2 separate regions of the Homo sapiens genome follow, and region 2 is linked to region 1. The links come from fine-mapping of genetic effects on gene expression. A gene starts in region 1. The other region holds a variant in brackets. All regions are shown on one strand. Distances are from middle to middle.

The links.
Region 2: its variant is fine-mapped to the expression of GGPS1 in monocytes (TOPMed, PIP above 0.99). The same link has a PIP of 0.9 or more in fibroblasts.

Annotation. Positions count from the first base shown.
Region 1 is chr1:235,325,618-235,330,989 of GRCh38, forward strand. GGPS1 (geranylgeranyl diphosphate synthase 1) reads left to right here and starts at 2,953. Exons shown (of 4, transcript NM_004837.4): 1 at 2,953-3,161. ARID4B (AT-rich interaction domain 4B) reads right to left here and starts at 2,562. Exons shown (of 24, transcript NM_016374.6): 1 at 2,152-2,562; 2 at 1,297-1,351. The coding sequence starts at 1,302. RefSeq lists enhancers at 1,243-1,432, 1,451-1,976, 2,713-2,772, 3,013-3,102, 3,603-3,752 and silencers at 1,683-1,772, 1,783-2,012, 2,183-2,232.
Region 2 is chr1:235,349,862-235,355,233 of GRCh38, forward strand. No RefSeq gene overlaps it. Among named protein-coding and RNA genes, the nearest start is that of TBCE, 15 kb to the right of the region's middle. The variant A/G (reference allele first, on the strand shown) is at 2,969.

The DNA of each region.
Region 1 (5,372 bases):
GTTACCTAATAAATGCACTTTCACCACTGTTTTACACAGGTGATGAGAGTTATAGCTAGGATTTGTGACTAACAAAAGGGATTCATTCCTGAAACATGTCTATGCTTCATGAAATGAGATAGGAATAAACTGTTTCAGGTAGTTTACAGCATCCCAAACTCAAAGAGAAAACCTTAAAAAAATTAGACTAAACTTAATTACTCTGTATAGTAGACCAAGATTTAAGTAGCCACAGCTTTTACCTTCTACAACCACAAGTATTACAAATTTTAATTTGGATGCAAAATTGTCAAAGCAGTCTTGATTCTGAGGACAAGTGAAATATTTTTTTAAATAGTTCAAAGGAACTGTCAAAAGTAGACAACGTTGATATTCTAACATGCTATCTGTTGCATTTCTACACTTGTGAACACTCTACCCTTTTCAAGCACTTCTGAATTTGTAATGGATGAAAAAATACAAGCTAGTGTCTAAGTTCCACCAGTTGAATCCAGACTTTTCAAAAATCTAAGGTTTTATTCTAGCATGTGTTTAAAAAAAAAAAAGACAGCATTCATATACATATTCTCTCAAGTAACAAAAATACCTGTATTTTTATCGTTATCATTTCTTCCAACAATTAAGCAAATTTTTTGACCCTATTCTCCACTCAGTTAACATATTGACATCTAAGAGGAACCTGGCCATCAGTTTTCCACACATCATAATGCAACAGAGCCTCTGACTTATTTACAGACCAACCAGATCAATAAAGAAAAATAAACCATATAACCCCAAGTCACTGGAAATACAAGAAACAACTGGTATCTCTGAATTGTGTAAAAAATCACAAAAATTCTCTTTTTAAATCTTTCAATTAAATTATTTTTGTGACGAGTCAAAGAGTTTTCTGCTAAAATTTTACAGTACTGTTCACACAATAAATAAGATTCTCTTTCATCAGTGTAACTGATAGAACCACAATACAGTTCAGTTTCTAGGGTCAGATTACCTGACTTGCTTTTTATTTTACCTTTTAAAACACTTTAATTCATGCCGTTATTCCTCTCATTCCCTACAAAAAGAGATGTTCAATATGGGAGAATCATCTTCAGTTGAGACATCCTATAACTGCCTCCAACTCCACAGCAAAGCCCGCCAGCTGACCCCGGTCTCTCTGGGGAAGGGCTCGGTCACCAAGTCACCAAACACACCTTCCTCTGCAAAACTCGGAAGCCCCACACGACGACCTCGTCGAAACCTCCTACTTCCTGAATTCGATAACCCCAGAGATTCGTTTTCCGCAGGCAATCTTACCTTCATGATGACTCTGGGACCAAGGTATCCTCTAAAACACCAGGTTCAGCTGCACCTGGAGGGGAAACAAAAGACACCCAGTCAACACCACAGGAGCCCCTCTGCACTGGCGGAGGCGGAGGGAAAGAAGCGAGCGACGTCCGAACCCCGAAGAAAGAGCCGCAACCAGGCGCCAGCCCCCGAACCATCACACGCCGACTCGGGGCTCCCTCCGGCCCCGCCATCCCCGCAAACCCAACCACCTACACAGCTCGGCAGCTTCCCGTCCCCATTGTCGAGACCCGACGGAGTTTCCCGTCTACGACAATGACGCCATTTCTGTCAGAGAAGAAACTCACAACAAGCCCGGCGTCCGGCGCAGGGCCGGCCGCTCTCCCCTAGGGCCTCGGCGCCCGGCCGAGCGAATCCGCGCCCCCACGCGCCGCGTCCGAGCGAGAGGCCGGCCGGGGGCCACCGAGGGGCCAGGAGGGCCTGTGGGCCGCGGGCAGGACCGGCCCGCCACAGAGCCCCTGCCCACGTCCCGTTCCGGGCTCAGACCCGACAAGTGGGAGCGAGATCAACATCTGGCCCCGCCGCGGGGACAACGTGAGGGCCGAGGGCCCCGGAGGCGGAACGGCCCCCACCCTGCCCGGGCCCCCGACCGCGGCCGCTAAACCGCTGAGTGTGCGGCCGCCCAGCCAGGGGGCGGCTCGGACACAGCGGCTGCGGGGGGTGGGGGTTCCCGGGAGGCCGAGGCCCCGAATTCGGGCGCCGCAGGGACCACCACCGCGATCTTCCTCTGCTCCTTGGCCGGGCCCAGCGACTCCCAAAAGAACCCCCTTAGGAGACCACGAAAGCCCCAGAAAATATCCCTACCTTCCTCGGAGGCGAGATCTGACCCTGGCACGTCCAGAGTCCCCTCTCTCCTTCTCCCCCCCAAAACCAGCAGGCCCGGGGGAGAGATGGGGAAGAAGGGCGGCGGGTCCAGCGGCTGCTGAGGCAGAGGCTCCGGCTCCTCCTCCTCCCGCGGCGGCGACTGGTACCTTTGTTTGGCGGCCGCTCGGGCTCCCTGGTTGGGGGGAGGGGGACGACGAAAAATCCCCCCCGGACTGGAGGTCCGGGCCCCCAATCGCGCTGCCCTCCAGAGGACGGCGGCGATGGACCCTCTGCAGCTCCCTCCGGGCAAAGGTCCAGGCGGTGGCCGTGGCGGCGGCAAGATGAAGCTCAAGAGTCTCCCTCCGCTTCGGCGACCGAGCTCCTCACTCCGGACTCGACTGACGGGCAAACATCGCTTCCCCCCCACCGACTCTAGGTTCCCCCCCTTTCTCCCCTCCCCTAGATTTTTTTTCCCCCCCTCCCCTACCTCTTTCCCGGATGGCCTCTTAGACGACCTTGGATTGGTTAAAGTTCTTTAGAACCCGCCTATACACTGTTCCTATTGGTCCCTGGATACAAACAACGACGCCATTTTCCCACCAGTTCTATGGAAACAGAAAGTTACGCCTCAAGGCTTTCTGGGAAATAAAGTCCATACTCTGGGGCCAACGCGCAAATCCTCGTCCGCGAGAACTGCAAGGCCCGCAATGCCCTGCGCCTGCGTGGACCGGTGCGGGGGCGGGGGGGAGGTGAAAGGGGCGGGGCAACAAAGCAGTAGGGAGGCGGCAACGACGCCTGCGCAGTGTGACCGGGATGGCGCATTTTCTTGCACCAACTAATGCGGTGTCGCTGGCGGCTGAGGAGGGCGGAGAGTTCTGTGGTGAAATAGTGGGAAGGATTCATGTAGGCATCGGGAAGAGCCTAAGTCCACATTATAAAATAGGAAGTTGATGCGGGGTACAGTTACTCCCGGACCGGCGGCGTGAAAGTCGTGATATCATCGTTGAACTGTGAGCGGCAGTGGCGGCGGCTGGGGGGAACCCGGATGGGAAGAAGGGCGGGGGAGGCTGGGAGGCGGGGCAGAGGAAAGAAAGAAAGGAGAGTGAGGACCCGGATGCTGAACCGGATTGTGTATGAATTTTCCATCCCCTAGCTTTAAGCGAGGAGGGAGAGGAAGGGTTGGCCAAGTGGGGCGGAAGGGAGCATCTGAGCGAGGAGGAAGCAGAAACCTCACCGTTTCTTCCCCTCCGGACTCTGTGCTAGCACTGTATACGTTTGCAGTTCTCTGCCCAGCCGCTGTGGAAAATCGGCCTCGAAGTGATTGAAATTCCCTGTTTATATCAGGCGGCTTCTTTCAGATCCATCGTCTTTCTCCCGGAGTATGAATGGAAGGATTCAGTATGCGCTTCACATTTGTATGTCTCTGGCCATTCTCAAACCAGGCCCTTCCCTTTGAAAAGTCTTTTGCATGGGATGTTCACTTCTTAGACGCAAGGTTGTGTGCCCTGGTTTCATCGTCTAACGCGTTAGAAGGCGCTTTCATTTCTTCATGGGTGTTGAGCGCCGACCACTGGGGTGGCCTCTGCCTTCGTAGACCTGCGCCTGGTGAGACGGACAGATGCTGAACAAAACGATGTGAAATTACCGCAGTGGCAGTGCCCCAGAGGAGAGTTCCACGGTGATAGGAGAATGAGGGAATTTGGCTTCTTTAGGGAGGGAAAGGAAGGGTTTCTGAGCAAGTGAGGATCGAGCTGAGAGCTGAAGGGCTAGCAGGAGTTAACTAAGGAAAGAGAAAAGGAAAAGACATTCCAGACAAAAAGACTAACTTGTCAGAAAGCCCTGTGGCGGAAGGGAGCTTTTCCAATATGAAGAACTGAGCCTGGAGAGATGGGATGAGGGGGAGTGTCGAACCTTTTAGGCTTTGTAAAGGAGTTTTGGTTTTCTCCTAATAGCAATGGGATATCTTCCAAGGAATCTCAATCAAAAGGGAGAGATGGCTCCGATTGGAATGTCATCCCTGGCTGAAGAGTAGAGGAAGCGAAAAAAAGAAGAGTTAAAGAGGCAAATGCAGGGAACCCGACGAGGAGGCTATTGCCGTAGTAGTTCACATGGTGAAAAGAATGGAGCGTTTGTATTAATGATTATGGATTCACTCTTTGAACAAATTTCTGGCAGCTTTTTAGTTTTGAAAGTGAGAAGTTTCAGACTCTCACTGAGGTATTCTGTAGTTTTTTCACTCTAAAAGGAAACTAGTAGAGTTCATGTAACACACACTAATGCCTCTTTACATTTAACTTTAGTATGTGATAGCTGAAATTTCCAGCTGTGATAAATTGGGAAATCCTTTGATTTAAAAGAAAAACAAAGGCGGGTGAGGGTGAGAGTATATGCCACGGTGTGTAGAATCCTTTAGACTCTTAAGAAGACACAAGGCGGCTGGGCGTGGTGGCTCACGCTTGTAATCCCAGCACTTTGGGAGGCCGAGGCGGGCGGATCACGAGGTCAGGAGATCGAGACCATCCTGGCTAACACGGTGAAAGCCCGTCTCTACTAAAAATACAAAAAAATTAGCCGGGCAAGGTGGCGGGCGCCTGTAGTCCCAGCTACTCGGGAGGCTGAGGCAGGAGAATGGCGTGAACCCGGGAGGCGGAGTTTGCAGTGAGACGAGATCACGCCACTGCACTCCAGCCTGGGCGACAGAGTGAGACGCTGTTTCAGAAGAAAGACACAAGGCAAGTTGGTTGTCGATACCTGGAAAAATTGAAGTTCTTATGTTTTCATACCACTGAAAATGCTTGTATGTAAATATCCTCTGGGACAGGAAATTGACTTAAGTGAGTATTCTTAAACATCTCTAAGTGAGGAAAGGAAATATTTTTTAAAGCATAATTAGTGTTTTAAGTTGAAAAATAACATCAACCACAAAGCTCTACGAATTGAAACAAAGATTAGCTCTGATTTCTGTGCAACAGGGTACACCTGTTACAGGTCCTGACACAAAAGGGAATTCTGAAAGTGCATCTCATTGATTTTTAAGTTCGGTCAAATGTGTTTTGGAGGCTGTGAGAAAATATACAAACGTGATTCTTGCTCCCAACTTGTAGTTGAGAAAAGATAGATACTAACATTTAAATAGAGAAGTATATGAGATCCTTTTTTAATTCTACTTTTAATGATGTTCGATAATAATCTTTTAGCTAAGCCATTATTCTTCCTGTTTT
Region 2 (5,372 bases), 24 kb after region 1:
AGGTTGGGGTAAGCTGAGATCTTGCCATTGCACTCCAGCCTGGGCAACAAGAGCGAAACTCTGTCTCAAAAAAAATAGTAAAAATTAGGCCGGGTGCGGTGGCTCACGCTTGTAACCCCAGCACTTTGGGAGGCCGAGGCGGGCGGATCATGAGGTCAGGAGATCGGGACCATCCTGTCTAACACGGTGAAACCCCGTCTCTACTAAAAATACAAAAAATTAGCTGGGCGTGGTGGTGGGCGCTTGTAGTCCCAGCTACTTGGGAGGCTGAGGCAGGAGAATGGCGTGAACTCGGGAGGCAAAGCGTGCAGTGAGCCAAGATGGCGCCACTGCACTCCAGCGTGGGCGACAAAGCAAGACTCCGCTTCAAAAAAAAAAAAAAAAAAGTAAATTAAAATAAATTAAATAAATTAAAATAATTAAAATAAATTAAAATAAATTAAAATAAAATTGTAGCATTGTATAAATGAGTTAGCACTAAAGATAAAATATATACAATTTAAGACAGTATTATAACGATTAAGAAAAAATCTGAGTATAAATTCTGATAGTTCAGAGGAAGGCAAGAGAGGATCCAGCACCGTGAGAATGTCATTAATATTGGGAGAAATTCTCAATTTATTGAGACTGAAAGTCACCTATGAGTATCAATTTAATGAGGAAGTTGGAAGAATTTGATGCAGTTTCCTGTGTCACATCATGGCTCCAATAGGAATATATTATTTAGCTAGTGACTGCTGCAACAAACCAAAGATCACACCAGTAATTCCCAGCTGGCTTGGAATGTCATAGCATATATGGACAATTAATGTTTCCTGACTTACTGGATCTGTTCTTTCAGCCCATCTTGCACACAACTGCCAGATTAATATTACTGCTTTTTATGTTGAATACCTCTGTTCAAAAATCCTTTGTAGGACAAACACCTTAGCTTCACTGTCAAAGCTCTCTATAATCTGCTTCCCGTCTTATCTCCCATCATTCCTTAATAGGGTTTACTTCACCTAACCCTATCTATTCATTCTTAACTAAAGATATCCAGCCAGGTGCAGTGGCTCAAGCCTGTAATCCCAGCATTTTGGGAGGCCGAGGCAGAAAGATCGCTGGAGGCCAGGAATTCAAGACCAACCTAGGCAAAATGAAGAAACCTCATCTCCACAAAAAATAGACATAAAAAAATTAGCCAGTTGCTCCTGCATGTGTCTGTCAGGTGAATCCCTTGAAGTCAGGAGTTCAAGACCACCATGGCCAACATGGCAAAACCCCATCTCTACTAAATATGCAATAATTAGCCGAGTGTGGTGGCACATGCCTGTAGTCCCAGCTACTCAGGAGACTGAGGCAGGAGAATCCCTTGAACCCAGGAGGTGGAGGTTGCAGTGAGCCAAGATGGCGCCACTGCACTCCAGCCTGGGCAACGGAGCGAGACTCTGTCTCAAAAAAAAAAAAAAAAAAAAGATATCCTACAAGTTCTCACATTCATGCCTGTATTCATAATATGTCTGACATGTTTCCCTAGCCACTCATTAAATTTGCTGTATCTCTAACTTAAAGTTGTAATTTCTTGCTGAAGACCTCTCCAAATCAAAATGTCTATAATAAATAACAATGTAACTAAAAGAAACAAACCAATCCCCTTCACCCAGATAGAAAACGAGTAAGAGAATGGCCTTAGCTAAGTATTTCGTAGAGACCTTACAAAGCAAAACTTAAATATGGCCTTTGGTTAACTAATGGCCTTTCAAAGGCTATGACTGACTTAATACAAGGTCTTTTTGTTATGCCTTACAGACCAATTGCACTCTGCTGGTGAGACGCTGACTTCATAGTAAGGCAGCTGGAAAACATCTCTTTAACATGGATTCATGGCAGGATTTTTCCAATTCAAATAATGTACCATGTCCTTTAAAAGAAAAACAATACTCTTGGACCTCTACTGTTGACCTAGTTTTTTTTGTTTTACTAAATATATACTTAATATATAAAAGGTATACTTAATGCATAAAAAGGCATGAACTCTGTAGGTGCTATTAATACCCTTGTTTATTGGCTATTCTCCCATCCTAATTCTTCCTAATCACAGTTTAATTTCCTTTTGGTGAATTACCTCTCCCCAGTTGGGCACAGCCAAAGTAACCCATACAGAAGCCAAGGGGTATCAGGACATTGTTATATCTTTCCTCTCAGTGACCTGTACAGTCAAAGGTTGGATACATGACCTAATCTTGGCCAGTTGGACTGTCTCCAAGGAGATTCTTGAGTGGAGAAAACGCTTCACTTATCTGGCAGCATATGTTGGCCAAATGGTACCTGTTGCTGTGGTTCTTTGTCTCAGTTCTTTGTCTTGAACCTGAACCCGGTTCTCCTGCCCTCCTATTGTACTCTGAACTATCTAAAATCCTACTAATAAGTTAGTCAGGCTGGGCGCAGAGGCTCAAGCCTATAATCCCAGCACTTTGGGAGGCTGAGGCAGGCAGATCACCTGAGGTCGGGAGTTCAAGACCAGTCTGACCAACATGGAGAAACCCTGTCTCTACTAAAAATACAAAATTAGCCAGATATGGTGGCGCATGCCTATAATCCCAGCTACTCGGGAGGCTAGGGCAGGAGAATCACTTGAACCTGGGAGGGGGAGGTTGCAGTGAGCTGAGATCATGCCACTGCACTCCAGCCTGGGCGACAAGAGCAAAACTCTGTCTCAAATAAATAAATAAATAAATAAATAATAAGTTAGCCAGATCTCCCAGCTACATGAAGACAAAAAGAAAGCAAAAGATTCTATAAGAGATTATATAGTAAGTTACTATTTGTGAAAAAAAAAAATAAGGCCAGAAGCGGTGGCTCACGCCTGTAATCCCAGCACTTTGGGAGGCCAAGGTGGGCAAATCACCAGGTCAGGAGTTTGAGACCAGCCTGGCCAACGTGGTGAAACCCCATCTCTACTAAAAATACAAAAAAATAGCCGGGC[A/G]TGGTGGCGCGCGCCTGTAGTCCCAGCTACTTGGGAGGCTGAGGCAGCAGAATTGCTTGAACCCGGGAGGCAGAGGTTGCAGTGAGCCAAGATTGCACCACTGCACTCCAGCCTGAGAAACAGACCAAGACACTGTCTCAAAAAAAACAAAACAAACAAACAAAAAAAACAAAAGAAAGAAAGAAAGAAGGAAGGAAGGAAGGAAGGAAAAAGCCGGGCATGGTGGCTTACGCCTGTAATCCCAGCAATTTGGGAGGCCAAGGCGGGCAGATCACGAGGTCAGGAGTTCGAGACCAGCCTGACCAATATGGTGAAACCATGTCTCTACTAAAAATACAAAAATTAGCCAGGCGTGATGGCTAACACCTGTAATCCCAGCTACTCAGGAGGCTGAGGGAGGAGAATTGCTTGAACCCAGGAGGCAGAGGTTGCAGTGAGCTGAGAATGTGCCACTGCACTCCAGCCTGGGAGACAGAGTAAGATTCCGTCTCAAAAAAAAAAGAAAAATATTTGCACAAAATATCTAGGGGTAGGACCTGGGAGACAGAGGACTAGGAGGTGGGAGGAGCAAGAGAGACTTCTCACTGTATACCTATTTATTACTTTTCATTTTTTGGAAGCATGTGAACATGTCATCTATTCAAATATTGAAATTTAAAAAATAAAGGCACCAGTAAATGAGAAAACCAACAATAAATGCTAAGCAGATAATTTCAAGAGTGGCTACTTACATTGGGTATCCGGGGAAGACCTCTGAGGGAGTAGCATTTAAGCTGAGCTCTGAATGATAAGAAATTAGCTATACCACAATCCTAGTAAAGAACATTTGAAACCAAAGGAATAGCCAACAAAGGTCATAAGGTGGGAAAGAATGGTGCCAATATGTACAAAGCAACATAGGTATTAGATTGTGTAGGAATTTGTAAATCATAGAAAGGACTTTAGGTTGGGTTTTTTTTTTTTTTTTTTTTTTTTTTTTTTTTTTTTGAGATGAAGTCTCGCTCTTGTCCCCCAGGCTGGAGTGCAGTGGCGCGATCTCGGCTCACTGCGACCTCTGCCTCCCGGGTTCAAGCGATTCTCCTGCCTCAGCCTCCCGAGTAGCTGGGATTACAGGCACCTGCCACCACACCCGGCTACTTTTTATATTTTTAGTAGAGACGGGTTTTCACTATATTGGCTAGGCTGGTCTCAAACTCCTGACCCCAGGTGATCCACCTCCCTCGGCCTCCCGAAGCGCTGGGATTACAGGCATGAGCCACTGCGCCCAGCCAGACTTTAGGTTTTAAAACTAACTGCAACTTGAAGCCGATGGATGGTTTTAAGAAAATGAGTAAGGCCAGGTGCCGTGGCTCACGCCTGTAATCCCAGCACTTTGGGAGGCCAAGGTGGGTGGACCACCTGAGGTCATGAGTTTGACACCTGAGGTCATGAGTTCGAGACCAGCATGACCAACATAGTGAAACCTCATCCCTACTAAAAATACAAAATTAGCTGGCCGTGGTAGCACATGCCTGTAATCCCAGAAACTTGGGAGGCTGAGGCAGGAGAATCACTTGAACCCAGGAGGCAGAGGTTGCAGTGAGGGAAGATTGTGCCATTGCACTCCAGCCTGGGCAATAAGAGTGAAACTCCATCTCAAAAAAGAAAAAAAAAAAGAAGAAGGGGAGTAAAGGCCAGGCGCAGTGGCTCACACCTGTAATTCCAGCACTTTGGGAGGCTGAGGCAGGCGGATCATGAGGTCAGGAGTTCGAGACCAGCCTGGCTAACATGGTGAAACCCTGTCTCTACTAAAAATACAAAAAATTATCCAGGTGTGGTGGTGTGCGCCTGTAATCCCAGCTACTCGGGAGGCTGAGGCAGGAGAATTGCTTGAACCCAGGAGGCGGAAGTTGCAGTGAGCTAAGATTGCGCCATTGTACTCCAGCCTGGGTGACAGAGCAAGACTCTGTCAAAAAAAAAAAAAAAAAAAGAAAGAAAGAAAGAAAAGAAGAGAGAAAAGAAAAGAAAAAAGAAGGGGAGTAACTAGATCTGAATTACCTTTATAAAAGATCATCCTGGCATCTGAGTGGATGATGGACTACAGAGAGTCAGAAGAGGAGGTAAGGAAACCAATTAGGAGGGTGTTTGAGTGTCCAGTGAGAGATGGTGGTAGCAGAGAACATGGTATGAAGTAGTTGAATTGGGGATTATTTAGAAAGTGGAGTTTATATGAATTACTGGTGGATAGGATGTAGAGTTAATGGAAAGAGGAGTCAAGGATGGTCTTTAGATTTTTTATAAGAAACTGAGTAGATGGTGATAAATCATAAATCAGACTTAGGAAGACAGGGAAAGGGTAGGTATTAGGGGGAAATTAGAGCTGCCTATCAAGCATCCAGGAGGAAATGTCACTGCATGCACAGGC